Homo sapiens: one gene and its partners. The protein of the gene in region 2 purifies or fractionates together with the protein of the main gene of each other region. This does not show direct contact. Each region holds a gene or a part of one and is shown on either strand. Other genes may lie near its edges.

Region 1 (8,297 bases), on a different chromosome or scaffold from region 2:
CCACCATGCTGAGCCTCCTGAGGGCTATCATTGTAAATGTCCAAAATCAATGTCCAAGTAAGATAGGCAAACTTAGGCCAAGAATCTTACCTAGACTTAGATATTTCTTAAGCATTGCTAAATGTGAGAGAAGCCATGCCATAAACTGTTAAGAACACAAACAAGTCAACTTTTCACAATCCACCATCAAACTTTTCCAACAAAATATTACCTAGCATTGCTTGGGTGATAGTGAGTGGCATGAAACTGCTTAAGCTGCTCCCATGTAAGCTCCGGGATGCACAGTGGGTCACCCCCGGAGACCACTGAGTACGTGTGGTCAGGAAGAAGTCTGTTCTGAAGGTGCTGGGAGAATATCCTCTCATTGTCTGTCTTGAAACGTAAAATAAATAAATCATAAGTATACATGTAAAATAATACACACGTTACATTACTTACAATATAGCCAATTGATCACATTCTGGTGCATACACCTGTAATACTTTGCAAATAAAGCTGTTCTAATGGTTTAAAAAAAAAAAAAAAACACCCACGCAGGCATTGTTTAACACGGTATTCAATCATTCATCACCCACGCACAGGACCCAAGGATTGAGAAGAACAATGGATTTTTTGATGTGTGGTGCAACAAACGCATAGCTGAGGGCTGTAAATCGGGATGGATCAGTCGGTCTGCCCACCAGCCGTGAGGGAAGTGGGGAGAAGCTGTCACCCCAACTTGAGTTCAAGAAGACTCCTTGGAAGAAAAGACCACCAAATTGAGAATGAAAAGGTAAGAAATAGTTCACCAGCCGAGAGGAGCTACGGGAATCAGAGAGCAGGCCACCCATGAGCCTCAGGGACACCAGGACAGACAGGTTGTCCAAGTCACAAAGGGACATGAAGACATGGGCCCAGGACAGCAGCTCTTAATCCAAAATGGTCTCAAGAATCCTTTACACTCTGAAAAATTAACCCATTTATGCCTGAGGTTGCAATTTTTTTGTAAAAAATCAGACCTTGGCGATGACCTTGAGCTGTAGGACATAAATAACTCCCACAAGCTTAGGGTGCCAATAATGGAACACTAGGCATAAATGCGTTTTAATGAGGACCCAAACAGCTTTTGATTATGTGGGCGTTTTTGCCTGTGTAGGTGCCTGTGTGTGTTTATATAATTTTTCTATATTCTAAATTAAAGCTGAGACATTTAAAAAATACTTATTCATTAAGGTAAGCCATCATTACATGTTGATATAAATATTTTTGAAAAATACTTCTCATAACAAAGTAAAAAACTGATTAGAGTGGTGCTGTGTTGCCTTTTTTGCAAATCTCTGTAGCGTCTGGCTCAGAGGTGAAGCTGGACTCCCCCATTTGCTCTGTATGCAGCTCGCTGTGTGTCACACACCTTGCCATGCAGCCTCTAGAAAGTACACCGTGTACTTGGGCAAGAATGAATGAAAAGACACTGTCTTGGTAGTGGTATGAAAATAGCTTTTATCTCACAGACTTGCTGCAGATCACATACCAGGGGTCCCCAGACATGGTCTGAGACCTGCTGGGAAGAACAGCAGCCTGGCCCTGCTACCCCGACTTCTGCTCACAGCACTGACCCCAGCTAATTCAAGAATGTATCACCTATAATGAGAATATTAAATAAAATCTTCCAGATGTGTCTATATCATGATATTGTACATGGGAAAGGTAAGCTGAACACAACATAAAAAAGGAAGAAAACTTACAAACGCTCCCTTCATCTCATTAAAGACGACTCCTTTAAAGACCAAGGGCGTCTGGGGGTCGCTCGGATTCTCATGTTCCAGCCGCCATCCTTCCTGCCTGAGGACAAATCATTATAAGCTGATAGTGACTCAAATACTAAAGTCTGTATCAACTAGTTAATCATTCATGACATACCAGAAATCCAGCTCGCGTAAACATGGGAAAAAGGTGGCATCCAAATACACCGAGAGGAGATTCTGAAAGTCCTTGGGATTTTGTGTGGAAAATGGATACAGAGTATAATCACTAGCTGGGTACAAATGAAAAGTGAAATTGTAAAATATAACAGATTTCTACTAAAATTATTGACTCTCAAGACTCATTCCCCCTTTGTCCTAGGACAGTAAGCTGTAGCTATTCTTGGGATGGGGCAGTGGCCCCATGCTCTGGTCCCTGGCCTCAGCAGCTGTCCCAGCTCATAACCCCAAGTGCCGGCTTTCCCATCCCGTCTCAGGATCTGCACTCGACGGGCACCAGGGCTTTCTTCAGCGAATATCTAAACTCTCTCAAGTTTCTCCAGAGACTTTCATACATCTACAAAGATGACCTCATTCTGTAACAGCATGGATTTAACCCGCTCTTCAATGTCACTCCCCCACAGAATGCACTGTTCATCGTCACCCTATCCACTATCGTCAGTCTTACTAAAAGTCAAACATCAACATTAGTAGTAACTCTGGCATTGTAGCGATATCTCCAAGAGAAAATTGTTTTGAACTTTTCTGGGAAAAGTTCACATATGTTTTCTTAAAACGCTAGTTTTTACAATCTCGCTACCATGTGGCTTTCCTGAAGGATTAAATTTCTAATGTCCTTCAACTAGAGAGAGGTAAAAATTTTTCTAGAACATGAATTGCCCACTCCCCTCATTCCTTCTCAGAAACTAACTGAATTCCAGTGGGTGTGCCTGGCAAACCCAAAAGCAGTTTCTGTTCAGGATGCTGGTCTTACCTGTGAAGGCGTTCATGAACGTGGAGAGGGACCGGTTCAACATTTTGAAGAAAGGGTCTCTGCACGGATATTTCTGAGACCCACAAAGGACGGTATGCTCAAGAATGTGAGGAACACCAGTACTGTCCATGGGAGTAGTACGGAACTGCACGCTAGGGAAGGAGAATGACCAGAACGCAAAAGGTTCAGCTTAGTGCTGCGGACACAGTTCCCAGATGCATCATCACCTCAGGCTACTAGAAATCATCATTCTGACACCACAATCCTCCAGCACAGGGTTTTCCAACTATAATGTAAATCATTGACTCAGACTGTAAAATTGTATTTTGATGAGATTATAAGTCAGTGTAAACTTTTCCTTATTTTTCAAGATGCTCTGTCAATAAAAATACTAGTGAGATGATATTTTAAACCACGTAATGTATAGCCATGTTTTAAATCAAGCTTGTCCAACCCGCAGCCTGCAGCCCGCATGCTCAGGATGGCTTGAAATGCAGCCCAACACAAATTCATACACTTTCTTAAAACATTGAGGGGTCCTTTATTTATTATTTTTAGCTCATCAGCTGTCCTTAGTGTTAGTGTATTTTATGCGTGGCCTAAGACAGTTGTTCTTCTTCCATTGTGGCACAGGGAAGCCAAAAGAATGGACATTCCTGATTTAAATAAAAACATTCAAGACCATGTTCTTACAATGCACCACACACCTGAACAGATTATTCGTGTCTTCTCTGGCCAGGTGTAAATACCTGGCTCCTGTGTCATCATGGGTGAGCTTCACTGCAGTCAGGAACAGCTCGGGAACAGATGTCACCTGAGTTAACAAGAAAAACACGACCAGTTAAACTTAGACAAAATGGCCTTTGAAATGGTTATGTTCGACACACTGAGAAAACTGGCTTTTCTGCCTGAAATTAGATGATGCCGGGAAGGCAGTATTTCAGAGCTGGAGAGAAGAGAACCATCTTGTCCAGGTCCCTTATCCTACAAACAAGGAAAGACAGACCTAAAAAAGGCAGATGAGAATATGTGTGTGTGTGTATAGAAAGAGAGAGAGAGCGAGCGAGCGAGCGAGCGCGAGAGCGCACGCGCTTACTACTGGCTAGGTATTTTAGATTTTTTTATTTTTTAAATTTTTTATTCTTTTTTTGGCTAGGCATTTTCTAATCATGTCACATATAATCCTGTGAGGGAGGTATTCTCATACTCATTTACAGACGAAAAAACCGAGGCTCAGGGTGATGAAATAAGCTGCCTAAATCACAGAGCCAGGATTCACCCTGGTGTCTGCCCTTCCCATGGTACCATGCTGCACCTAAGTAACAGAGCGCCCTTTCCAATGTCTGCTGAGTGTCTCCTGCTTTTGTGTGCTGTGCCTCAGTAACACAGCGCCCCTTCCAATGTCTGCTGAGTGTCTCCTGCTTTTGTGTGCTGCGCCTCAGTAACACAGCACCCCTTCCAACGTTGGCTGTGTGTCTGTTTCTGTGCATATCATCTCCTGTAGTGCGCAGAACGGGCCTGCAAGGAGGGGAAATGCTAGAGTGGGCTAGCCTGCGACAGCAGGGAGAGGCTCTAGGATCAGCCTTTGCTTCTCTTAGTTTAGGATGGGTTCTCGGTGGTAGCTAGAAGCACAAAGCTGTGGCTTCCAGAACAGCTGGAGGGGCCGGGAGGATAGAAATGCCCACAAGACAGACGAAAGACTCCCCACTCCTGGGGCGGCGTGGAAGGTCATCTCCTACTTTAGGTAAGCCTCCTGGTAAGTGACCATACTCCTCGGTATGAAAGAAACTGTCTTCTCTTCCAGTCATGCCAGCCGGCCCTCTCCCTCAATCACACACCACGTCCCTGTGATCACCACACCACTCACCACCCCCTCCTGCCAGGTGCCATGAGTCACCTGGCCAAGCGCACACAGTAAGTCGCTGGCCAAGGTCAGACCTCGGGTCTCCTCAGCCCAATCTAGGGAGCCTGCCACGCAACAGTCATGCATAAAGCAGACCACTATGACCTGCATCATCTACCGCCGCGAAATTACTTCTGTTTCCAAGCTCACTGTACTTTGTAACAGATGATCAATGCTTTTGAAGTCAGCAGATACAGTGAGATGTTTGCTTTCTAATAATATATAGCTTTAATAATAATAGCTTTCATGGTAGCTATTTCTCAAACAAGAATCATGACTTATCGTAAGTTTCTATGGCTGGACACAGTGGCTCACACCTATAATCCCAGCACTTTGGAAGGCCAAGGTGATATGGTTTGGCTGTGTCCCCACCCAAATCTCATCTTGAATTGTAGTTTCCATAATCCCCACATGTTGTGGGAGGGACCTGGTGGGAGGTAATTGAATCAAGAGGGCGGTTTCCTCCATGTTATTCTCGTGACAGTGAGCACGTTCTCATGAGAGCTGACGGTTTTATAAGGGGCTTCCCCCTTCACTTGATCCTCATTCTCTCCCCTGCCGCCCTGTGAAGAGATGCCTTCCACCACGATTGTGTTTCCTGAGGCCTCCCCAGCCATGCAGAACTGTGAGTCAATTAAACCTCTTCACTTTTTAGCTCATACTTTATAAATTACCCAGTCTTGGGTATTTCTTCATAGCAGTGTGAGACTAGACTAATACACAAGCAAAAGGATTGCTTGAACCCAGGAGTTTGAGACCAGTCTAGGCAACAAAGTTTCCATCTACACACACACACACACACACACACACACACACACACACACACACACACACAATTAGCCAGGCGTGGTGGCACCTTGTCCCAGCTACTTGGCAAGAGGATCGCTTGAGCCCAGGAGTTCGAGGCTGCAGTGAGCCAAGATCATACCACCACACTCCAGCCTGGGCGACAGGGTGAGTCCCAGTCTCAAAAGTAAATACGTTTCTATAAAATTTGAGAAATAAAGGAGGAGAATCTACCGCTGTGGGTGAGGCCCTTATTAACAGTAACCTGTACCATAAACCCAAGTGTCTTTGCCTGGCCTTTGCAGGATTTCACAAACGCTCCAAGTCTTTTCATGAGTCCCATGCCTGGACCTTGTCTGGCGCACCCTAGTCACTGCCCTGGCTCCCTTGCTGGAGCCCTGACCGAAGGCAGCCACGTTCTCACACCACCCTCTCCAGGAGCTCTTCCCTCTGCCCCCAGCAGCAGCAGCTCCCACTCCTCCTCCTGCCCTTGTCCTTGGCCCTCCGCGTGGCGTCCACCATGTGCCTCCGGTCACAGCCGCAGCAGTCTTTCTAGACAGTAAGCTGTTTGTCTTTCACGTTTGCTATAACATCAAGCATAGCACAAAGCCAACAGCTGGCCAAATACATGAAGCGTGTCATTTTCAGTTACCATGCTAAATAGAAACAATGCAAAAGGTTTAGGCAAAATAACAAAACAAAAACCAAATGAATCTATTTTAATACAGACCCAAGTAAGTACAGGTCCACAATTGCTTCTTTATCATTCTGAAACCCGAATGGCTCAGAAAACTGAAAGGTTCTGCGGACGTTTAGAGCAAGCTATTTGATGGCAAAACCTGACTAAACAGATCAGGGCAGTGAGTCTTCATGCTCATGCTCAGTGAAACATCAGGTTTGGCTGCAGAAACGCTAGTGTGTCTGATTACAGAGACCCAGCTGGAAGTGTTACTCTCTAAAATCTCACAAGAACCAGGCTTTGCGGGATTCCAGGAAGGGACTGGGGCTCATTTCACTCACAAGCTCTGTTCAGCCGAGTAGCTGCCACACAGCAGGAGCTGGGCCAGGGCCTTGGGACACAAGGACAAAAACGCTAGTCTCCGCCCTGAAGGGCTCCGTACATAGGCCAGAAGCCGCACCTGCAATGTATGTGGATTTATAAGGAGGTGCCGAGGACGACCCATACCTGGTTTACGGTGAATCCATGGATCTTGTCTCCTAGTTTATACTGCAGAGCCCTCTCACAAGCCCGGTTACTGTTCCATCGCCACGCTCTGTGGTGTGCATGTCTAGATTAAAAGTCATCTAAGTTAGATGAGTTGCAGGAAAAGTATCTGGCTAACATTATTCAGCCACATAGTGAAAATACTCTCATGTAATAAAGATTATTAAAGAAAAATTAAATATTGCATCTTCCAAAGTCTTGCACATTCCAGAAAACTGATTTCTGGTAAGGTCCTTTCCATTTTAATGATCTTTATCTTAACTAAAGCTTCAATGTTGGAAACCTTTTCTTTACACTTGTTCACAAATAACTATAATACAATTACAGTTTAAATTCCCCTTGTTTAAGAGACAACTCTTAAACAAAAGGGCTTCTTTCCTTCACAGAATCCTCAAAAGCCTTCACAGTATACCAAGAAATTCACACTACAGTTAAATCCCATTACATGCCTACCGAATTGCTGAAAACTTAAAAAGCCTAATATTACCGGGAACTCTCATACACTGCTACAGGGAGTACAAAGTGGAATAACTTTGGAAAAGCACTTGGCATTCTTTAGAAAGGCTGAAGAGGCCGGGCGTGGTGGCTTACGTCTGTAATCCCAGCACTTTGGGAGGCCTGGGTGGGCGGATCACCTGAGGTCAGGAGTTCGAGACCAGCCTGGCCAAAAATTAGCCTGATGTGGTGGCAGGTGCCTGTAGTCCCAGATACTTGGGAGGCTGAGGCAGGAGAATCGCTTGAACCCGGGAAGTGGAGGCTGCAGTGGGCCGAGATCACGCCACTGCACTCCAGCCTGGGTGACAGAGCAAGACTGTCGGAAAAAAAAGAAAAAAATGCTGAAGATTGGAAATCCATTCACCTCTTGGTCTCTATCGTCCACACCTTACACTGCGGCCCCAGCACTCACAGACAAAAATGTCAGCACGAACCCTGACAGTCCCAAACTCAACTCACCCGGAGGTGTATCGACAGAGAATGGATAAAGTGCGGACTAATCGTTCAATTAAAAAAAAAAAAAAAAAAAAAAAAAAAAAAAAAAAAACCTTACCAATATAAGGGCCTACAGTGGCATGTAACAAAGATATGGGTCACATAACGTGAAACAAAAGATACACATGATACAGTATTATCCTAAACAGGTATTATTCAAATAGGTAACAAGACATTGTCAGAACGCATAAAAATGGTAAAATATTAAAAAAAAAAAAAGCAAGGACATTTCTGTATGTTATGACCGTGATAATCTAAGAGGGAGGGAGAGAGTTACGAGCAGTTAGGGGAATCTTCAACTTGGTCACAGGGACACTAATTTTCTTTTTTGAGACAGATCTCACTCTGTTGCCCAGGCTGGAGTGCAGCGGTGCAATCTCGACTCACTGCAACCTCCACCTCCCGGGTTCAAGCAATTCTGTCTCAGCCTCCTGAGTGGCTGGGACTACAAGTGCTCACTACTACGCCCAGCTAATTTTTGTATTTTTAGTAGAGACAGTTTCACCATGTCGGCCAGGCTGGTCTTGAACTCCTGACCTCAAGTGGTCTGCCCGCCTTGGCCTCCCAACATGCTGGGATTACAGGTGTGAGCCACCGCGCCCAACCTATTTCTAATAATTATTCTCACCTGAATGAGATGGCTCACACCTGTAACCCCGCAATGCGAGAGGCTGAGGA
Region 2 (8,297 bases):
TGTATTTGTATTTGTTTTTTAATGATGAATAAATCTTGAAGTTTACTTAATTGATTTTTCTTTGTCTTACTGAGGTGTTCTTCGTCTTACTGAGGTGTTTATCATTTTCTGCTTTAATCTGTTGAGGTGGTAAATTACAGATTTTTCTGATAGTGAATCACTTGCATTCCTAGAAAATATTCCAAAGGATCATAGTGATTATATTTTTAAATATAATGTTGTATTTGTTGTGCTTATATTTTGTTTAGAAATTGGCCTGTAATTTTCTTCTATTATACACTGAAACCCCTGCCTCCCGGGTTCAAGTTATTCTTCTGCCTCAGCCTCCGGAGTAGCTGGGATTACAGGCACACGCCACCACTCCCAGCTAATTTTTGTATTTTTAGTAGAGACAGGGTTTCACCATATTGGCCAGGCTGATCTCAAACTTCTGACCTCGTGATATGCCTGCCTTGGCCTCCCAAAGTGCTGGCATTACAGGTGTGAGCCACCGCGCCCAGCCTTCCCTGGTTTTAATATTAAGGTTATTCTAGCCTCATATAATGTACTGGGGATTCTACTCACTCTTTTCCCTTCTTTGTTAGATTTTGTTTAAGATTGGAATTATTTGTTCCTTGAGGGTTTGTTACAACTCACCTGCAAAACTGTCTAGACCTGTTCTTCTCTTCGAGGGAAGACTTTAAATTACTTGTTTAACTTCTATAATGGTTATTATTATATTTATCAGGTTTCCTCTTAAGTCAGTTTTGGTAAGTTAACTTTTTCTGGAAAGGTTTCCATTTTGTATTGTTTCAATATATAGGCATAAAGTTTCTGGTATTTTTTTAAAATTTTCTGCTCTCCATATAATATGTACTCTCTTTTTCTCATATTATCTATTTTGCTTTCTCTTGTTTTTTTATAGTAGCCTTACCAAAGCTTTTACAACACTTTCAGTCTTTTTTTGTCTTTTTTTTTTTTTTTTTTTTTTTTTTTTGAGACAAAGTCTTGCTCTGTCGCCCAGGCTGGAGCGCAGTGGTGCGATCTTGGCTCACTGCAACCTCCACCTCCCGGGTTCTAGTGATTCTCCTGCCTCAGCCTCATAGCTGGAATTACAGGCGTGCACCACCATGTCTGGCTAATTTTTGTGTTTTTAGTAGAGACGAGGTTTCACCATGTTGGCCAGGCTGGAACACTTTCAGTCTTTTCAGAGCACCAACCTTTGTTTATTGTTGATCTTCTTTGTTATAAGTTATGCAAAGGATATTTATTGTACAACATGGTGACTATAGTTAATATCAGTGTATTGTATACTTGAAAATTGCTGAAAGTAGATTTTAAATTTTCTCATCACAAATAATAGATATGTGAGTTAAGGCATATATTAGCTTGATTTAGCTATTTCACAATATATACATATTTGAAAACATGCTGTACACCATAAATGTATATAATATTTATCAATTAAAAAATGAAGACTATATTGAAAGTTATTTTTACATTGTAAATTATGTTTTTATTCATTTTTTTCTTATTATCTTATTTTTCCATTTTCCGTGGTTTTTTTTTTAAACATGCAAATGGTGCATCTCACATAAACAGCATATGGCTTGTTTCCGGTTTGTTTGTATGGGGGTTTTTGTTGTTTTGCAGACTAATAGTCTCTTTACCCTTATAATTACTGATAAAATTACATTCCTCTGTTCAGACTCGTGGGTCTGTGTGTGTGTGCACATGCATGCACAGGTATGTGTGTTTTGGGTGGGATTTTGATTTTGATAAAACCTATAAAGATTTTGATTTTGATAAACATAAAGACTTTTGTATAGTCAGTATGTTAAAGCATTTTCTCTGTATTCTTATCTCCCACTTTACTTCTGGGAACACTTTTTTCTTTTTTCTGAGAGACAGAGTCTTGTCCTGTCACCAGGATAGAGAGCAGTAGTGCAGTCATAGCTCATTACACCCTTGATCTCCAGGACACAAGCCATACTCCCGCCTCAGCCTTCTGCCAAGTAGCTAAGACTATAGGCACCACCGTCATGCAGTCATGCCCAGCTAATCTTTCATTATTTTTATTCATTTGTCTCTATGCGTTTTTCTGTATAATTTCTTTGCAACTTTATTCCAGATTATAAATTCTCTTTTCAATTGTATTTATTCTGCTATTTGGCCTTTTTTTTTTTTTTTTTGAGACGGAATCTCACTCTGTCGCCCAGGCTGGAGTGCAGTGGCACAGTCTTGGCTCACTGCAAACTCTGCCTCCTGGGTTCAAGTGATTCTCCTGCCTCAGCCTCCTGAGTAGCTGGGATTACAGGCACCCTCCACCACACCCAGCTAATTTTTGTATTTCAAGTAGAGACGCAGTTTCACCAGATTGGCCTGGCTGGTCTTGAACCCCTGACCTCAGGTGATCCACCTGCCTCAGCCTCCCAAATTGCTAGGATTACAGGTGTGAGCCACAATGCCCGGCCAGCTATTTGGCCTTTTTATTGAGTTTTAGGTTTGTTATTTCTGAATTTCCGTGTTTTTCTTTCTTTTTTTTGGCCTAATTTTTCTTTTTCTTTTCTTTTCTTTTCTTTTTTTTATTTTTTTTTTATTTTTTATACAGAGTCTTGCTCTGTTGCCCTGGCTGGAGTGTAGTGGCGTGATCTCACTCACTGCAACCTCTGCTGCCCTGGTTCAAGCGATTGTCTTGCCTCAGCCTCCCAAGTAGCTGGGATTACAGGTGCCCACCACCACGCCCAGCTAATTTTTTGTATTTTTGGTAGAGATGGGGTTCCACCTTATTGGCTAGGCTGGTCTGGAACTCCTGACCTCAAGTAATCTTCCTAATTTGGCCTCCCAAAGTGCTGGAATTATAGGTGTGAGCCACTGTGCCCAGCCTAAAAAAAACTTGCAAAGCCAAAAGTAATTAAGCAAAAAGAGATGATGAAAAATGATTAGGCTGGCTGGGCACGGTGGCTCATGCCTGTAATCCCAGCACTTTGGGAGGCCAAGGCGGGTGGGTCACCTGAGGTCAGGTGTTCAAGACCAGCCTGGCCTACATGGTGAAACCCCATCTCTACTAAAAATACAAAAATTAACTGGGCATGGTGGCACATGCCTGTAATCCCAGCTATTGGGAGGCTGAGGCAGGAGAATCGCTTGATCCCGGGAGGTGGAGGTTGCAGTGAGCTGAGATCACACCACTGCACTCCAGCCTGGGTGACAGAGCAAGCCTCCATCTCAAAAAAAAAGAAAAAAAAAAAAGATGCTTAGGGATTTTTGGAAGATGCAGCTAGTGTGTAGTTAGGCCTAAACACGGGTGTGGGTCAGTCAGTGGCTTCAGAATCTCAGAGGGGCTTCTTTTTTTCACATCTTCACTCAGAACCAAGGTTAAAGTAGATACTTTTTCTTCCTTAACTGTCTTTCTTCTAGTTCCTTGCTATTTGGAACAGCATCATAAGCATCACCTGGGAGCTTGTTAAAAATGCAAGAATCACAAGTCCCACCTAGAACTACTCAGAATCTGCATTTTAACAAAATCCCCCAGGTGGTTTTTATCTATGTTTTAAATCTTTCAGCTGGGTGCGGTGGCTCACACCCATAATCCCAGCACTTTGGGAGGCAAGAGGATCACTTGAGTTCAGGAGTTTAAGACCAGCCTGGGCAACATAGTGAGACCCCCATCTCTACAAAAAATAAAATTAGCTGGGCATGGTGTTGTGTGGCTGTAGTCCCAGCTGCTGAGGAGGCTGAGGCAGGAAGATGGTTTGAGTCCAGGAGATCAAGACTACTGTGAGCCATGATTCTGCCACTACACTCAAGACTGGGCAACAGAGCAAGACCCTTGTTTCAAAAAACAACAAAAATCTTCCAGTTCACTTTCTTTTCTCAGTATGTGAGCCTCCCTGAGTCCTGGCTTCTCCTGCGCTTTCTGTTTAGCTTGAGTTTAAGAGACTGTCATCTCCCTGCTGTCCTGAAAGCTCTGTATCCTACGATCTAGGCAAGAAAGACACAAGAAGGCTTTGCACCATGGCTTATGCCTGTAATCGCAATACTTTGGGAGACCAAAGCAGGCAGATCACTTGAGGTCAGGAGTTCGATACAAGCCTGGCCAACATGGCGAAACCCTATCTCTATTAAAAATACAAAAATTAGCTCAGCGTATTGGTGGGTGCCTGTAATCCCATCTACTCGGGAGGCTGAGGCACAAGAATCACTTGAACCCTGGAAGTGGAGGTTGCGATGAGCTGAGATCGTGCCACTGCACTCCAGCCTGGGGGACAGAGTGAGACTCTGTCTGAAAAAAAAAAGGACCCTCCTGGTCAACATGGTGAAATCCCGTGTCTACTGAAAATACAAAAACTTAGCTGTGTGTGGTGGCTAATTTTTTTTTGTCTCTGTTCAAAAAAAAAAAAAAAGACGCAATAAGTGTAGCCATTTCACTTTGTGTTCACCTCACTGGACTGTCTTCAGTTTATCATTATTTACTTTCGTAAAGGTTCTATCTCTGATTTAGAAGATGTTTGATTTTGTTTTACCTTTTTAGGTGTTTTATAGCTGTAGAGTTTTGGCATTTCTGATTTATCAAATTACCAGAAACAAAAGTTTTGAGTTGTGTGTTGTTTTTGTATATGTGTGTGTGTGTGTGTGAGAGAGAGAGAGTCATTCTTTTGCTTTTATTATTTCTTCTTTTAGAAGGTTTTCTTCTTGTCTATTATGTCCATGTAAACACAATTCTAAATAGGTTTGGATAAAGTCAAACCACCCCTTGAAGTAGAAGAGATGGGCTTTATGGTTGTTATTTCATGATGTTGTTAAAAGAGGCTTTTGTTTTAAGTTTGTCAGCTATTTCCCGTGTAGTCGAGGTAGTCAAAAGTCTGCTGATAGCCAAAATGTAATCCTAACATGAATACAGTTACTATTGCTCAACACCTACTGTTTAATAGGCAGAATTAACAGGAGTGGTCCTTGGGCTTAGCTCCTCATCTGACACGCCCTTGTTTCTTTTGCTCTGCCTTTGAAGCTACTTGTATGTGCTTCACTACCAACACCCCTGGCAGGCTGATGTGCACACACTTGTGTCGAAAGCTGTAAAGCCTGCAGGTGCCAAGGAGCACAGTGTCCCATCTTACCTTGTACTGTACAGAAATGAGGGGCATTATCTTCCCCCGTGTTCTGTCACACTGTTACCTGACTACAAAAATAGTTCTGTTTATGTTTCCAACGGCCTCAGAGTCCCTTGAGAAAACTGGTCTTTCAACTTTTCCTTGTAAACCCTCTTTCTACAGATAAAGTCCTTCAGAAGTCTGCAAGGTCATATTAGGGACCAGTTTCTCCAACTTACACTTTGCTCCTCCTCGCTTTCCCCAAGACACAGTTTTCTGTTCTTCACCAGAAACCCTTACACAAATTAACTTATACATCCCAGAGTTAGGCTCAAGTTATTGATGCACTTGCTCAATGTGTACACATACACAGATATACACATATTTATCTTAACCACTTGTATGCATATGTGTTTGTGTCTATTTCTTTAAACAAGGTAGGGTTATGTAGTGATGACTAGAATATGAGAAAAATATGTGTAATGAAAAAACATTCTAATATGTAATGCTGTCAAAAGCTTACAGATAATTCCATCAAACTAAAAATAAATACTGTTTATCACTATCCTAAAGGCATAAATTGTCCCGTTTACTCAGCAATCTCATGTGACAGGTACTGTAATTTTTCTGTTTACAGGGAAGGAAACAAAAAGGGTAACTTGACCAACATCCAACACCTAGTAAGTGGTTGCATTTGTTTCCTATTGCTGCTGTAACATATTACCACAAATTTGGTGGCTTAACACATTTTACAGGTTTGGAGGTCAGGAGTCTGGAAGGGGTCTCACTGAGCTAGAACCAGGGAGTTAGCAGGGCTGTGTTCCTTCTGGAGGCCACATACATTTCCTTCTCTCTTTTAGCTTCTAGAGGCTGCCCACATTCCTTGGCTTGCCCCCTTCCTCCATCTTCAAAGCCAGCAACATCGGGTCTGGTCTGTCTTCCAACCCTGTCTTCCCTTTCAAAGGACCCTTGTGGTTACATTGACCCACCCCATAATCCTGGATAACCTCCCTATTTTAAGGTCATCTGATTAGCCACCTTAATTCTGTCTGCTACCAAAATTCTTCACCGTGTAACCAAACCTATTCACAGATTCTGGGTATTGGATTCTGATTATCTTTGAGGCCATTATTCTGTTTGCTACAGAGGTGTAGCTAGAACTTGTACTCAAATTGATCTGCTTCTAAAAGCAATTTCTTTAGGAAGCTGGAAACCCCTAACGCTGAGATCACTTTTTTCCCTGTGGTTTTGCCCTTGCTGAATATTATCTCAATGAGGGTTTGGATAACTTTTATAGCATAGAAAGTTCAACTCTTTTTAGAAACTAGAGAGAAAATGATGTCATTTACGCATTGCAGACACCCAGTACATTTTAAAATCCGAAGTTTTATTTTAGATTCAGGGAGTACACGTGCAGGTTTGTTACCTGGGTATATGTGTGATGCTGAGATTTGGGATACGAATAATCCCATCACCCAGGTAATGAGCATAGTACCTAAAAGTTAGTTTTTCAACCCTTGCATCCCCTTCTTCCCTCCCTGACAGTCGTACCCAGTTTGTATTGTTGCCTTCTTTATGTTCTTGAGTATCCAGTGTTTCACTCTATAGAATTAGAAAATTATATGTGAGAATATGCAATATTTGGTTTTCTGTTCCTGCATTAGTTCACTTAGAATAATGGCCTCCAGCTGCATCCATGTTGCAGCAAAGGACATGATTTCATTATTTTTATGGTTGCATAGTATTCCATGGTATATATGTACCACATTTTCTTTATCCAGTCCACCATTGATGAGCACCTAGGTTGATTCCATGTCTTTGCTATTGTGAATAGTGCTGCAGTGAACATGCAAGCGCATGTGTCTTTCTGGTGTGAAAAATGAGTAGTTTTCTTTTGGGTATATACCAGTAACAGGATTGCTGGGTCAAATGATAGTTCTGTTTTAAGTACTTTGAGAAATCTCCAAACTGTTTTCCACAGTGGCTGAACTAAGATACATTCCCACTAGCAGTGTATACGCATTCCCTCTTCTCTACAGCCTCACCAGCATCTGTTGTTTTTTAACTTTTTAATAATAGCCATTCTGACTGATGTGACATGGTCTCTCATTATGAGTTTAATTTGCATTTATCTACCAATTCGTGATGTGGAGCATTTTTTAATATGTTTGTTGGCCGCTTATATGTCTTCTTTTGAGAAGTGTCTCTTCATGTCTGTTGTCCATTTTTTAGTGCGGTTGTTGTTTGCTTGTTGAGTTGTTTAAGTTCCTTATAGATTCTGGATATGAGACTTTTCTCAGATGTGTAGTTTGCAAATATTTTCTCCCATCCTGTAGGTTGTATGTTTACTCTGTTGAGCGTTTCTTTTGCTCTACAAAAGCTTTTTAGTTTAATTAAGTCCCATTTGTCAATTTGTTGTTGTTGTTGTTGTTGCAGTTGCTTTTGAGGACTTAGTCATAAATTATTTCCCAAGACCAATGTCCAGAAGAGTGTTTCCGAGGTTTTCTTCTAGGATTCTTACAGTTTGAGGTCTTACATTTAAATCTTTAATCCATCTCGAGTTAATTTTTGTATGTGGTGACAAATAGGGGTCCAGTTTCATTGTTCTGCACATAGCTGCCAACTATCCCAGCACCATTTATCAAATAGGGACTTCTTTCCCCATAAAACAATCTTTTTTTAGAGACATGGTCTCACTATGTTACCCAGACTAGAATTGAGCTCCTGGGCTCAAGGAATCCTCCCTCTTCAGCCTCCTGCATAACTGAGACTACGGGTGCATGCCACCATGCCCAACTTGATGTATTCTTAAATTAGTTGACAGGAAAAGAGGACCTTGATTAGGATTTAAATGTAGCCACTTCTGACTTTTAGAGATTTGAATACTAAATATTGTCATTGAAAAGTTTGTACTACTAAGTTACTCTTAATATTTGAACTCCTGGTTTTTTGGCATTGCTTCAGATAGGAATTAATGTTTTAATATAAGTTTCTGCAATATTGATAACAATTAACTAATTTATTTCATAGCCCTTCTTTTCAAACTGGTGGTCTTCCAGGAAGGGAAATGGCTGGAGAGGAAGGAAGAATTTTCACTCTGCGTCCTTTTGTACTTTTTGAACTTTGAGAAATGTGAATGTATAAACTAAAAACAAATAAATAAAATTTTATAAATGTTTAAAGTGGAATAAATGAACAGCTCCTATTTTTCTATTATCTCCACTC
Region 3 (3,500 bases), on a different chromosome or scaffold from region 2:
GGCTCATGAGAAGTTAGTATCACTTGCATGTGGCTGTGTGTGTTGGGTGTTGAGAATGTCTGAAAGCCTGCTTGTTTTGATAATTTTGGTGGTAAGGATTCTGGGGGTCTCCCCTTCTCTCGTAGTCAGGACATATGATCAACAGCAACATAAAGTTTAATCAATGAGGCAAGCCCAATGCTTCGATTGAGTGTGATACTATAAAAGTGATTGATGAAAAGCAATTTTACTTTAAAAACATGTATTTTTTGGGTAAAACATGTAGTTTTGGGTAGTTCTCAGGCAGCAAACATTTCCATTTTTGGTGTGTTTCAGAAATTATAGACATCCATCAAAATAAATCAGTAAAAATTGATTATCATGGAAAGCTTCACACAATATATTATTCATTGAAACAAAACAGGTCGTTCATGCACATAAATGATTCATTTGTATAAAAGGTATTTAAGAAAGTTGAAGATAATGAAAAGAAGCTCACGTTTACTTTAAATATTTCTTAATTCTCGCACCCAGCTCTCAGTCATCATAAAGGTAAAAGTTTTGTAATCGGCATCATTGTAAAAAGTGAGTTTTGATAGACTTTGTATTTGAGGACAGAGTTTGAAGAAAGTAAAAAAACACACAAATTATGCTAGTTGTTTTTGTTGATGGAGCATCAAACATCACCATGATGAACAACTTGAATTCATCAGGGTATTCTACTATGTCTAGATATTTGGCATTATAAAGACATTTTGATGATTAATGGAATTTACCCTTTATTGGCAGCTGCCAAAGAGCTAGCTGTTGTTTCTTTACTAGCACCCAGAGTGGCTGAGAGGTGTCCTTTTGGAGGCCTAGAGCAATGTAACCCTTTCTTAATATGTGAAGTCTGGAGAAGGAAGATAAAGCCCTTGGTTCAGGGGCTTTCTTTAGGGCTGTCATTTAGAGCAAAGTCAGTTTTTTTAATAAGGCAATAACTTTTAAGAAAAAAATAAATAGTATATTGGGACTTGTGATATAACTGAAATCAGTAATTTTATTTGGAAAATGTTTGATAATAAATTATAGGGTATCAAGAGCAAGTTTTTGTATTTTTAGTTTGTTTACATAAAAATCGATTTGTGTAAACTGTACTGGACTTGAACAATCTGTTGACTTTTCCGTTTTGTTTATCCATATGCTCATTTTGGCCATTTAAAAATATCTATCTATGTAAATATAAAAGTGTCACATAAGTGTTAGTTATTATATGCCATGCTTTGACCATCTTCGTTTTTAACATGACCAATACAGGCTTTTTAATGGCCGACTATGTTTTTGAAAGCACAGTCATCTCAACATACAAGTAGAAAAGGAAGTAGACTGATGAAGAGGAATGTTAAGAGTAATCTTTTATGTCTTAAGATTGAAGCCACATTTCTTTCTTACCATTTTGTTACAGTCATCATCCTTGTGGCTCAGAATTGAACAGAGTAGTTGCACAGCTGCGCTGTCACAGAGTGTCCCTCATCTCATGTGTGTCCTCAGAGCCATTTGCACACAGGACTGATCACATGCATGCTGGTTGGTTTCTTGGCTGCTGTGAGCGCTTAAGAGCAGAGCGGGTCTCACTCCCCCACCCCTCAGCCCTGGACAGGGACCTTGCTGAGCTCTGGGCCTTCATTAGACTCACCAGTCACTTCGGGTTCTGCACAGAGCCTCATCATCCACTCCACAGAGAGCCCATCACAGTGGCTGGATAGATGGGAACTGACAACCCATAGCTGTGGGACAGGGATTTTTCCCTGGGTAAAAGTAATTGTTAAAAATTAAAAAAAAAAAAAACTCAACAACTCATCATCTCGAGGAGAAGTGACTGACGGCCTGCACCAACTTAGACAGTCACAGTCATGAAAAGTGCACAGGTGGGATTGCCCGAGTTGGCCATGAATTACCGTGATGGATCCATTTGGAAATGAAGTTGGTTGTGACATTTCTTCAAGTTTTGTTTCGCTTGAAGCTTGACTGGTAGATGGAGAATTTTGGCCTTATGTATCTTATGTGACTTGCATTACCCAGTCCAGTCCTCTGCCATTAATCTAAGGTCCGCAATGTATCAGGTATTTTACTGAGAATCTTGCTTACCTAATTCTCACAAAAAAAAAAACCTTGGGAGATGAGGGTGGAAACAGGATGAGAGGTCAGGTGACTTGTCTGAGGGCTGACGGTTTGTAATTGGAAGAGTCAGGGCCTAACCACTGGTCTCTTTGACACAAAAACTCATGCTCTTAGTGGCAAGCACAGTGTTCTCAAGATTGGGGGAAGCCAGGGAGGGACAGTGGGTTGTCTGCTACTAGTGGGTCAAAATTACATATTTAGTCATGAATGGTTCAGCTTTTACCATTTAAATAACAAATAAATGTTCTTTCTCCATAGGCATTAAAGACTATTCCAACTGGCCCACCATCCCGCAAGTGTACCTCAATGGCGAGTTTGTAGGGGGCTGTGACATTCTTCTGCAGATGCACCAGAATGGGGACTTGGTGGAAGAACTGAAAAAGCTGGGGATCCACTCCGCCCTTTTAGATGAAAAGAAAGACCAAGACTCCAAGTGAGGGCGGCCAAGTCCTCGCTGAGCAGAGAGGGAGCCGTTCATGTCAGAGACTCACTGCCAGAAAAGCCTTACCCATTTTGGTTTTCACTATTGAGACCGCAACTGCTTGCACTGATCATTTTGGTTCGTGAGCAGTTGGTGATTTTAGTTGGTCTGGTGTTCGGGCTAAGAATATTTTATTGTGGACTTAATTACAACCACTGCACTGTAATGATTCAATGCTGTATTATGATATTGCTGTAAACAAAATTCATTCTTATATTGTCACTTATTCTTTGCCTGATTCAGAAGTTAAATAGGAGCTTTGGAATCATTATTCATGACCCCTCTGCAAATGTGTCAGTCTCCAAAGAGAGTATCTCCCCCCAAATTTTGTGTAGCTTCTTTTGTTATGGAAAATGGTGAACAAAAAAAGAAACTGTGATAACTGGGGCGTTGTTTTTTAAAATAAACTCCAGCACAGGGATGCTGTGCATGCCTGAGTTGATTCCGAAGTGCATATGTCTGTAAGGATTTGGAGTGCCTGCAGTGTTTTATGTGTGGGAAGTAAGGGTGAGTCTCATATTCTTCTATTAAATTTGCCACAAGAATTGCCGTCGAGCCCTGGTCTACTTTCTGGGGGAAGCAGCTGTTTGGATGGTGAGTCAACTGTGCAGCTGGAGGCGTGGGTGGGCTGGAGGGAGCAGAGGTGGGTGAGGCCGGAGGAGGCGGCCCCACCTGCCTATCTCTGGAGCCCTGTGCTTGGCACACTGCTACAGTTAGATAGGGAGACATCGTCAACAGTCCACCGAGCTAGGGGATTTAATGAGTATTTTACTTCTTAAAAAGTGGGGACTTTCTAAAAGAGGACATAATTTGGAATTGTGGCAGAGATTCTCCCAGTGTCTGGTGTCTTTATAAGACCTTTCCATGAGTTCTGCATCCC
Region 4 (8,297 bases), on a different chromosome or scaffold from region 2:
GTGTCATCTTTCTTAAAGAACACCATTATCGAAATGATGTCATATGGCTGGTTTTAAAAGTTTTCTGCATGATGTATTGTGAAATTCAAAACAATTTTTAAAAGAATATTATAAGCTTGTTAGTAAAACTCATTTGTATATGTGACAATTCTCTTTTAGCCCTGAAAGACTATTTGCGCAGATGCCAGTTACTTAACAAATTTGAAGTATTAGGATAAGGCACATTATAAATGTAGTGTTTTTCCAAATTGAGTTGTGATTCTAATAGGCAATGTAATAGCTCTTGAAATTCGAATTATTTTATAATATTAACTGTATGCATAAATTCGGATTAAATATTTTGTGGTATTAACTGTATGTATAATTTCTTTATAGTGAATGAATATAAAAAAGCAGCAAGGCACACCTCTTAATTTATTTCCCAGCCCAAAGCACTTTCCCTATCATCTGTACAAAAAGTAGTGGTAGGGCAGTGCAGGAGCTTGCAGTCAGATTTCCTTGGATTGGTTTCCAGGTCCTACTATTTACTTGCTAAATGACTGTAGGCAGGTGTGTTCATTGTCATAATCAAAGTATCTCTGCCCTTAAACACAAAAAGAAGATGAATACAGACCATTTTGTGTTCTCTGAAGGAAATAAAGATGAGTAATTGGCGTACACAACTTTATTTTTTTTCCTTTTTTAAAAAAATTTACCAGACTACACTGACGTAGGTGTACACTACTTTAGATTGAACGGAGGAGGTACTATTTGAGGTGAGACCTGAAGCAGAAGGAGACAGCCTTGTGGAGAAACAGTAGACCATTCTGAGCAGAGATTAAGGCCTTGAGTTGAGCAAGAGCCTTCTTGTAGGTTAGAGTGGTTAAGCACCTTGAGCAAAGGGGAGAGAGTCAGAGTTAAAGCTTCTGAACTTTCCTAATCTATAAGATGAGGCCTCTATTGACTAGAATGTTTGTGAAGATTAAAAGAGAAAGTAAATTAGGACAAAATGGACTTCTGAATACATAATTTCTCAGTGTTAGGTCCCTCTCTGCATTCTCCCTGAAGGCTTCCTACTCTTTTCACCCAAGATGAATTCACTGTATTTTTATTTGTATTTATAAAATTGGCTTATTAGTTTTATTTCAAAATAGAGTGAAAGATGCAGTTAGCCAACTCAGATAAAGAGTAGGAGTCAAAATAATGTAAGCTTAGATTTAGATATAGCCAATTCCGAGACAGTCAAATAATAGATTTTTACTCTGTTGCTTAATTACAGGGGTTGAAACAAGAATGAAATTCAGCTCTCACTTTAGTTTATTCCCTGGGAGCATGAGTGTATTGTGTCCTGCCCCAAATATTTGGGAGAAAAAAAATAAGGGCACACTAGAAGTTAAACAAGTAAAAGTTCACATAAATTAAATGACATTACCTATCAGCAGTAGCTATCTGCATCTGTGTCTCTAACAACTATAAGATCTGGCCTTTTTCTTTTCTTTTTTTTTTTTTTTAGACAGAGTCTAGCTCTGTCGCTAGGCTGGAGTGCAGTGGCACAATCTCTGGTCACTGCAACCTCCGCCTCCTGGGTTCAAGTGATTCTCCTGCCTCAGCCTCCCAAGTAGCTGGGACTACATGCGCGTGCCGCCACACCTGGCTAAATTTTTTTTGTATTTTTAGTAGAGACAGGGTTTCACCATGTTAGCAGATCTGGCCATTTTCTAAGAGCTAATTGCTTTACACCTATTGTACCATCTAATCTTCCCAGCAACTCACAGAAGCAGGTGGTGGTATCCTCATTTTTGGATGAGGATGATACTAAGTTAAGAAATGCACTGAGTGTTGAACAGTTAGTAGTAGGGCTAAGATTTGGTTTCAGATTTTATTTCCAACTAGAAAGACCATTTTAACACTGTTTTGGTTATTGTTTGTAGAGAGCTTTCTAAATAAGTGGGTACCTTTATTATGATTAAGAAAGTAATTGACTATTTGGTAGGATTTCATACAGAATTATTGATAAGCACAATTCTCAGTTAAGGTGACTTTCACATCTTTCTCATCAGTGTTAAGATGAATGACTAATGTGGTGTACTAAAAGTTCAGGTAGAATAGGATAGGAATGCTAGGATTTTGGTACTCTTCACCTTCACTGATAAGGAAGGAAGGAAATTATATTTACATTTTAGTAAATGGTAAATGTGAAGTAATCTGGGCGTTGGAAAGAACAATGGCTAAGAAGTAGAGGATCTAGGTTCTAGGACTTGTCTGAATGACTGTGGTCAAGCTCCTTAATCTCTGAGCCTCATTTTTATATACTAAATGGAAGTAATAATATCTGCTGTCTCTGGGTTTGTTTGTGAGGGTCAGGTGAGACAGTGTGTTAAACATAAGGTGGTATTATTCAGAAATTTGGACAAAATTTGTTGTATTCCTGGTAAACTACAGTATATCTAGAGAGATAAATAGTTAAGACATTTCTATAAATGACATAGTATAGTGCATTTCTTAACCTAACATTTGATTTTTATCCCATTAAATATACATTATAGAAATTAATACAGAAATTTGAATCAAAGTATAATGAATCCTTAAATGTATGATACACTTGATGTATTGTATGTCTACCCTGTGGAAAGAAGTGCCTGCTAACTTCAGTTAGTCTGCACACCTAACAGTGTTAGGGTATCAAGAGTGAATAATATTTTCACTCCATATATATATACACACACATACATACACGTATTCCATATCCTTTGTTATATTATGATGCTTTAACTGTAGAGTTCATTGGTCAAATAGTATGCTTAGGGAAATACGTTTACTTTGAGTAATAGTTTTCACCAGAAGATTGTAGGTTATATGTGAGAGTAACTTTTAGGAGGCTTTTATTATTTAAATTACATATAACATATAGTAGATTAGTCTTTTAAATTGTTCTTAATCATATAGTCTTTGAAACTTTTTCATCAATGCCCTATTTTTTTATTAATTAAATTGCTATAAGTCTCTTCTTCCTCATCTATAAAACTAGGGGGTTGGATTAGATGATCCCTAAGCTCTTTCCAGCTCCAAGATTTAAGATTTTAACTTTGAACTGCCATACCAAAACAACTCAAGGATCAACCTGCAATCAGAGTAGTCGCTTGTTCCACAGGTGATTAGATCATTATAGCCCACCAAACGAAAATAGAGAAGCAGAATAGATTGACTGTCCTAGGCTCGTATGATCATTATTAATTTTTTTTTCAATTACAAAAGACATGACTTCTGCAGAAAGTTTGAATAGAGATGAAGGAAACAGTGAATGGTTATTGTATGCCTCTCTTCCTAGCCTCATGCTGCCCCCATATAAATAAGTTCAAGTATTAGATCCTTTCTGACCTTTCTTAGTATTTTTCATGTAAATACATCTCTGTGTGTGTGTGTGTATGTGTGTGTGTACAGATTTTCATTCAACAGCAGAGTGTCTACTATGTGCCCGGTATTATTTTAAGCAGCAGGGATATGTGGTGAACAATATGTTGCATATGTGGAAGATGAAATCTCTGTTACAGAGCTTACATTTCTAGGAGGGGAATGGACAAGTAAATAAGAATTTCACATAATGGTAGTTGCTAACACAAGGTATTGCTGGTAACTTTTGGGGGCTGAGGTGAAGAGATATGCAATATTACATAAAGGTAGGCAGACCTCTCTGAGGAAGGATGTTTGAACTGAGATATGAATGACTTGAGGGAACTAGCCTTTGATCAGGAGAAGAGCATTCTGGCAGAAGTATCAGCAAGTGCAGAATTCCTGAGGCAAAAACAGGCTTGTGTGTTGAAGGACCAAAAAGAATGGCCAGTGTTGCTGGGACATAATGAATGAAGGGGAAAATGGCATACCATGAAGTTAAAGGTAGGTATGGGCCAGATCATAAAGACCTAAACGCCTTGAGGGCCGTTGAAAGGAGTCAGAATTTTAAGTGATATTATAGCATACATATTCTGCAACTTGTTTTTTGTATCATGGGTAACTTTTCCATATACTAATTTTAAGTACAGAGGTATAATTTTAAAATCTCATTTTCCACTAGTCCCTTTCTCATCCTATAAAAATACTAAAATCTCTACCATTCTAAAAATGTTGCTCTTCTGTGCTCTTTTCTTCTCTAGTTGTTACTCTTCTCAAACTTTCTGCCTCTATTTTCTTCCCTGCCATTCACTCAACCCTGTCTAGTTTAGCTTTCTTTACCAGCCATTCCTCTGCTACCTCTCTTCTTCAAGTCACCAGTTACTCAATTTTCAAATCCTCATCTCTTTGGTACATTTAGTGCATTGACAACTCCCTTCTTCATGAAACTTTCTCCTTTCTAAGCTTCTGTATCACTACTCTCTCCTAGTTTTCATACTTCTGTCTGCCTGTTTTAAATATTGGTGGTCTCCACAACTTGATCTTTGGCTGTCTCCTTTTGCACACATTTCTCTAGGAAGTTTCATTCACTCTCCTTGTCATTATCTTCCAGTTTTGTATTTTTACCTTGGATTTCTCCTGAGATCTAGGTATACCTATTTGTTTACTAGACATCTTTTGGGTATACTAGAAGTATGTACCAATACCATCTGACATTTTCTTTATATTTACCTTGTTTTTGCTCCTCCTCCCTGTTTAGTTAATGGTGCTTCCATCCACCCAGACAGAGCTCAAGAGAGAAACCTTGGATTTACCTAGATTCTTTCCTTTCCCTCACCTTCCTACAAACCCCCAACCTAATTGGATACCAAGTCCTGTAGTTCTGTTTCCTCTATATCTTTTGAATCAATCTTTTTCTGTCCCTCGCCACTGTTCTAGGTTAGTCTCTTGCCTGAACTCTTTCAGTAACCTAAAATGGTGTCCCTGCTTCTAGGCTGTAGCTCTTCCAGTCCATTTGTCAGTACAGAGCAGCGTTTCTAAAGCACAAATGTGATCATTCCCTCTTGCTTAAAATTACACAATGGCTTTCTCTTAGTTATTGGCCAAAATCTAAACTCGTTGGCTAAACTGTTCATGATCTGACTATGCTTGCCCTTTCTACCAGTCTCCCTTATCACACTTACTTTCTAGAAAACTGAACTGTTTGCTGTTTTCTGAGTAAGTCATGAAATTTGTGCTTTTCTACCTTTGCACAGGTTATCCCCTTTTTTGGGAATGTTTCTTTATTTTGTAACTGTGATTCATTCTTAAACATGTCATCTCCAGATATCTCTGACTCTCCATCTTTTTACCCTAGAGTTTGGCCCATCATTTTGTGCTCAAATAAGACATTAATTGCATCCTTCATAGTATTTAGGACAAAGTATTATATTTGTGTGTCCACCATGCCAAATAGATGACAGCTCCTTTCTTTAGAGTAATATTTCTATAGGAGTAGAATACAGTGTTAAAGAGTACAAACTTTTTACTCAGTTCTGATTTTGGCTCTACTTTTTAAAGTAGACTATACTAGAGATATAATTGCCTCATACTAAAAATGAGATTGATAATACTATCTGAGGATGACTTGTATTAAGTGAGATAATGCATCTAAACTAGTGTTGTCTGGCACATGGAAATCTCTTAGTAGATGGAAGTCACATTAGTATCTTCAGCACAGATTCATTATTCAGCAAATATCTGTTGAATAAATGATCACATATCAGGTACTCAGGATATATGCACTGTTAACTGGTAGTATCTAACTCGGTAATTGGTTATCTACTTAGTATCTGGTAAGGATATATAAAAGAAATCTTATTTCTGTAGAAGCCTCCACACCACTAATAACAGTAATAGGAAATGGCTAAGAAACATACAGGATATTATGTGGTTACACACTTTTATAAAAGGGGAGAATTCACTGTAAATTCTCAAATGATCAGTCTTACATGATCAAAAGTTCTAAATTCAACATTTGGATTTTATTCTGTAGGTTGAGTAATGGCAATTCATGGAGGTTATAAAGCAGAGGACAAGCATGATCGAATTGGTCCTTTAAGAAGGATAAACAGGTGATGGTTTAGACAGTGATAGGGTTGGAGGGAAGGAGTAGGGTGATGACACCTGAAGGAGGTGGATAAGTGGGAATGGAGTTGGGCCTATGAATGAAATTCATTTGAAGAAAGACATATGGTTTTGAGTATAGAGAATAAGAGACAGATAGGAGTCAAAGATTATTCTGGCCATGAGCCTGGATGACTGAGAGAATGATAATATCATTGGAGGAATTAGAGATGTGGAAGAGGGATCTTGTTTGGGGAAAAGTGGTCTAGGGAAAATGAGTTTACTTGGGGCTTATTATTTGAGTTGTTCAAGTGAAAAATTCTTGTAGGCTCTTGTAGATACAGAATTGGAGTAAAGATGAGAGACTGGTGCTGAATGTGAGTACTAGTACTGTTTACTAAGGGAATACTTTTAAATGTTTGTTTTTTTAATGTGTTGTTGTTTTCTTTAAAATCAAGACCAGTTGTTACAAAGAAGTAACATGTTTTAATGTCATTGTCGTTTAAAAAATATTTTTACTTCTTAAAGTAGACTAGCCAAAAGGTCCCGAACTTGGTATCTAAAATGAATATGGGGAATAAGGATTTTGAAAAATAGCTGTTGCTCTCATTCTTTTTTTTTTTTTTTCAATATGAGACAGGGTCTTGCTGTGTCACCCAGGTTGGATTGCAGTGGTGTGATCATGGCTTACTGCAGCCTCAACCTCCCAGGACTCAAGCAATCCTCACAGCTCAGCCTCCTGAGTAGCTGGGACTATAGATCTGCATCACCACATCTGGCAAATTTTTTGTATTTTTTGTTGAGACAGGATCTCACTTTGTTGTCCAGGCTGGTCTTGAACTCCTGGGCTCAAGCGATCCTGTCACCTTCGCCTCCCAAAGTGCTGAGATTACAGGTGTCAGCCATAGCAGCCGGCCTATTCTCTCATTCTTGAAGAATGAAAGCTCCATGTTATGTTTGAAGTTTTACGAGTTGACTGCTTTGTAAGAAAAAAAAAAAAATCCTAGATCTATGAGAATATTCCCGTGAATGCCAGGGATTTGCATATACCAGTTTGATGATTTCAGAAATTAAAGTCTACTCTATGAAAATGTTTTTCATTTGAAAATTTTCCCTAGAATGATTTAAATTAAAAATAATGAGGAAAAACTTGTGAATCTCTACAGATATATCCACGGAGACTAGTTTGAGGATACACTGGCATAGCTATCAGAGAACCTGGGCTTCAATATTGGCCCTTCCACTTACTAGCTTTTTTTCACTAAGGCAAGTTGCTTAGCCATTGTAAACCTCAATATCCTCATATGAAAAATAGGTTAAATGAGAATGAAGTAATGTGTGTAAAGTAAAACTCATACATGGCACATAGTAATAATAATAACTAACCCTTACGTAGCATTAACTGTGTTCCAGGCACTGAGCTAAACAATTATTATTTAATCCTTATGAGGTAGGTACTTATCCCATTTTATAAGTAAATGGAGACACTGAGAAGTAACTCGCCCAGGGTCATGTAGCTAGTAAGTGAAGCGGCAGTATTTGAACTCAGACAGTGGCTCTTAACTGTTCTTCTAGATTGCCTTTTAATATGTATAAATAAGGACTTGATATATGTTCTCTACTATTATTGTCTTTATTTTCAGAAAACTGTGACAAGTATAGATTCATAAAATCCTAGAAGTGGCAGGAATAATCTATGAAACCTAACAACTTTAGGAAAAGTTGTATTCATTCAACAATTATGAATCACATGGAACTATTTATCCTTAAGGTTTTAGATTAATTAAGGGGGAGGGGGCATCTGCTATGAAGCAAACTATAATATATAATACATAGAACAATAATACAATATTAAAACTATTTCTAATTTTTAAAATATTTGCAGTCTCAAAACTGGTAGGGAAAGTGATCTTTTGATTTGTATTACCAATTACAACTTGTTCTTTCTGTTGTTCATTTTTAGGATATAAAGAACTTTTCATACATTTGATCTCCCTTTTTTGCTCCTTTTGAATAAACTTCATATTTTCCCTTTATACTCATATATGTTTTAATGGAAATGATGCATTTGATAATTTCAGGGACACTAAAATAATCATGAAAAATTATTTTCATGATTCCTAAGAGTTGGGAAGTTCTTAAAGCTTGCTTCTCCTTGCTCATTGATTATTCAATATTAACTTTCCCTATCTGAAAAATATGTTATATAAATGGAAATTTATAGCCTCAGTGCAAAGATAATTATATAGTTTGTAAGTTGTTTAAAAGAGAAGGACACCTTAAACTGTTGGAACTCTCCAAAATGTATTTGTTAATAAATAAGT

The links.
Region 1: the proteins of SDHAF4 (region 2) and PITRM1 purify together in Homo sapiens (affinity purification with mass spectrometry, with the first as the bait; one large-scale study listed by BioGRID). This does not show direct contact.
Region 3: the proteins of SDHAF4 (region 2) and GLRX5 purify together in Homo sapiens (affinity purification with mass spectrometry, with the first as the bait; one large-scale study listed by BioGRID). This does not show direct contact.
Region 4: the proteins of SDHAF4 (region 2) and LEMD3 fractionate together in Homo sapiens (co-fractionation; one large-scale study listed by BioGRID). This does not show direct contact.

The regions. Positions count from the first base shown.
Region 1 is NC_000010.11:3,163,514-3,171,810, forward strand, and holds part of PITRM1 (presequence protease, mitochondrial isoform 2 precursor), read right to left. Parts: intron 6,694-8,297; coding exon 6,591-6,693; intron 3,530-6,590; coding exon 3,423-3,529; intron 2,868-3,422; coding exon 2,716-2,867; intron 2,015-2,715; coding exon 1,900-2,014; intron 1,822-1,899; coding exon 1,725-1,821; intron 373-1,724; coding exon 212-372; intron 1-211. UniProt on the Homo sapiens protein: Metalloendopeptidase of the mitochondrial matrix that functions in peptide cleavage and degradation rather than in protein processing. Has an ATP-independent activity. Specifically cleaves peptides in the range of 5 to 65 residues.
Region 2 is NC_000006.12:70,571,111-70,579,407, forward strand, and holds part of SDHAF4 (succinate dehydrogenase assembly factor 4, mitochondrial precursor), read left to right. Parts: intron 1-8,297. UniProt on the Homo sapiens protein: Plays an essential role in the assembly of succinate dehydrogenase (SDH), an enzyme complex (also referred to as respiratory complex II) that is a component of both the tricarboxylic acid (TCA) cycle and the mitochondrial electron transport chain, and which couples the oxidation of succinate to fumarate with the reduction of ubiquinone (coenzyme Q) to ubiquinol.
Region 3 is NC_000014.9:95,541,550-95,545,049, forward strand, and holds the end of GLRX5 (glutaredoxin-related protein 5, mitochondrial precursor), read left to right. Parts: intron 1-2,397; coding exon 2,398-2,576; 3' UTR 2,577-3,165; downstream 3,166-3,500.
Region 4 is NC_000012.12:65,171,256-65,179,552, forward strand, and holds part of LEMD3 (inner nuclear membrane protein Man1), read left to right. Parts: intron 1-8,297.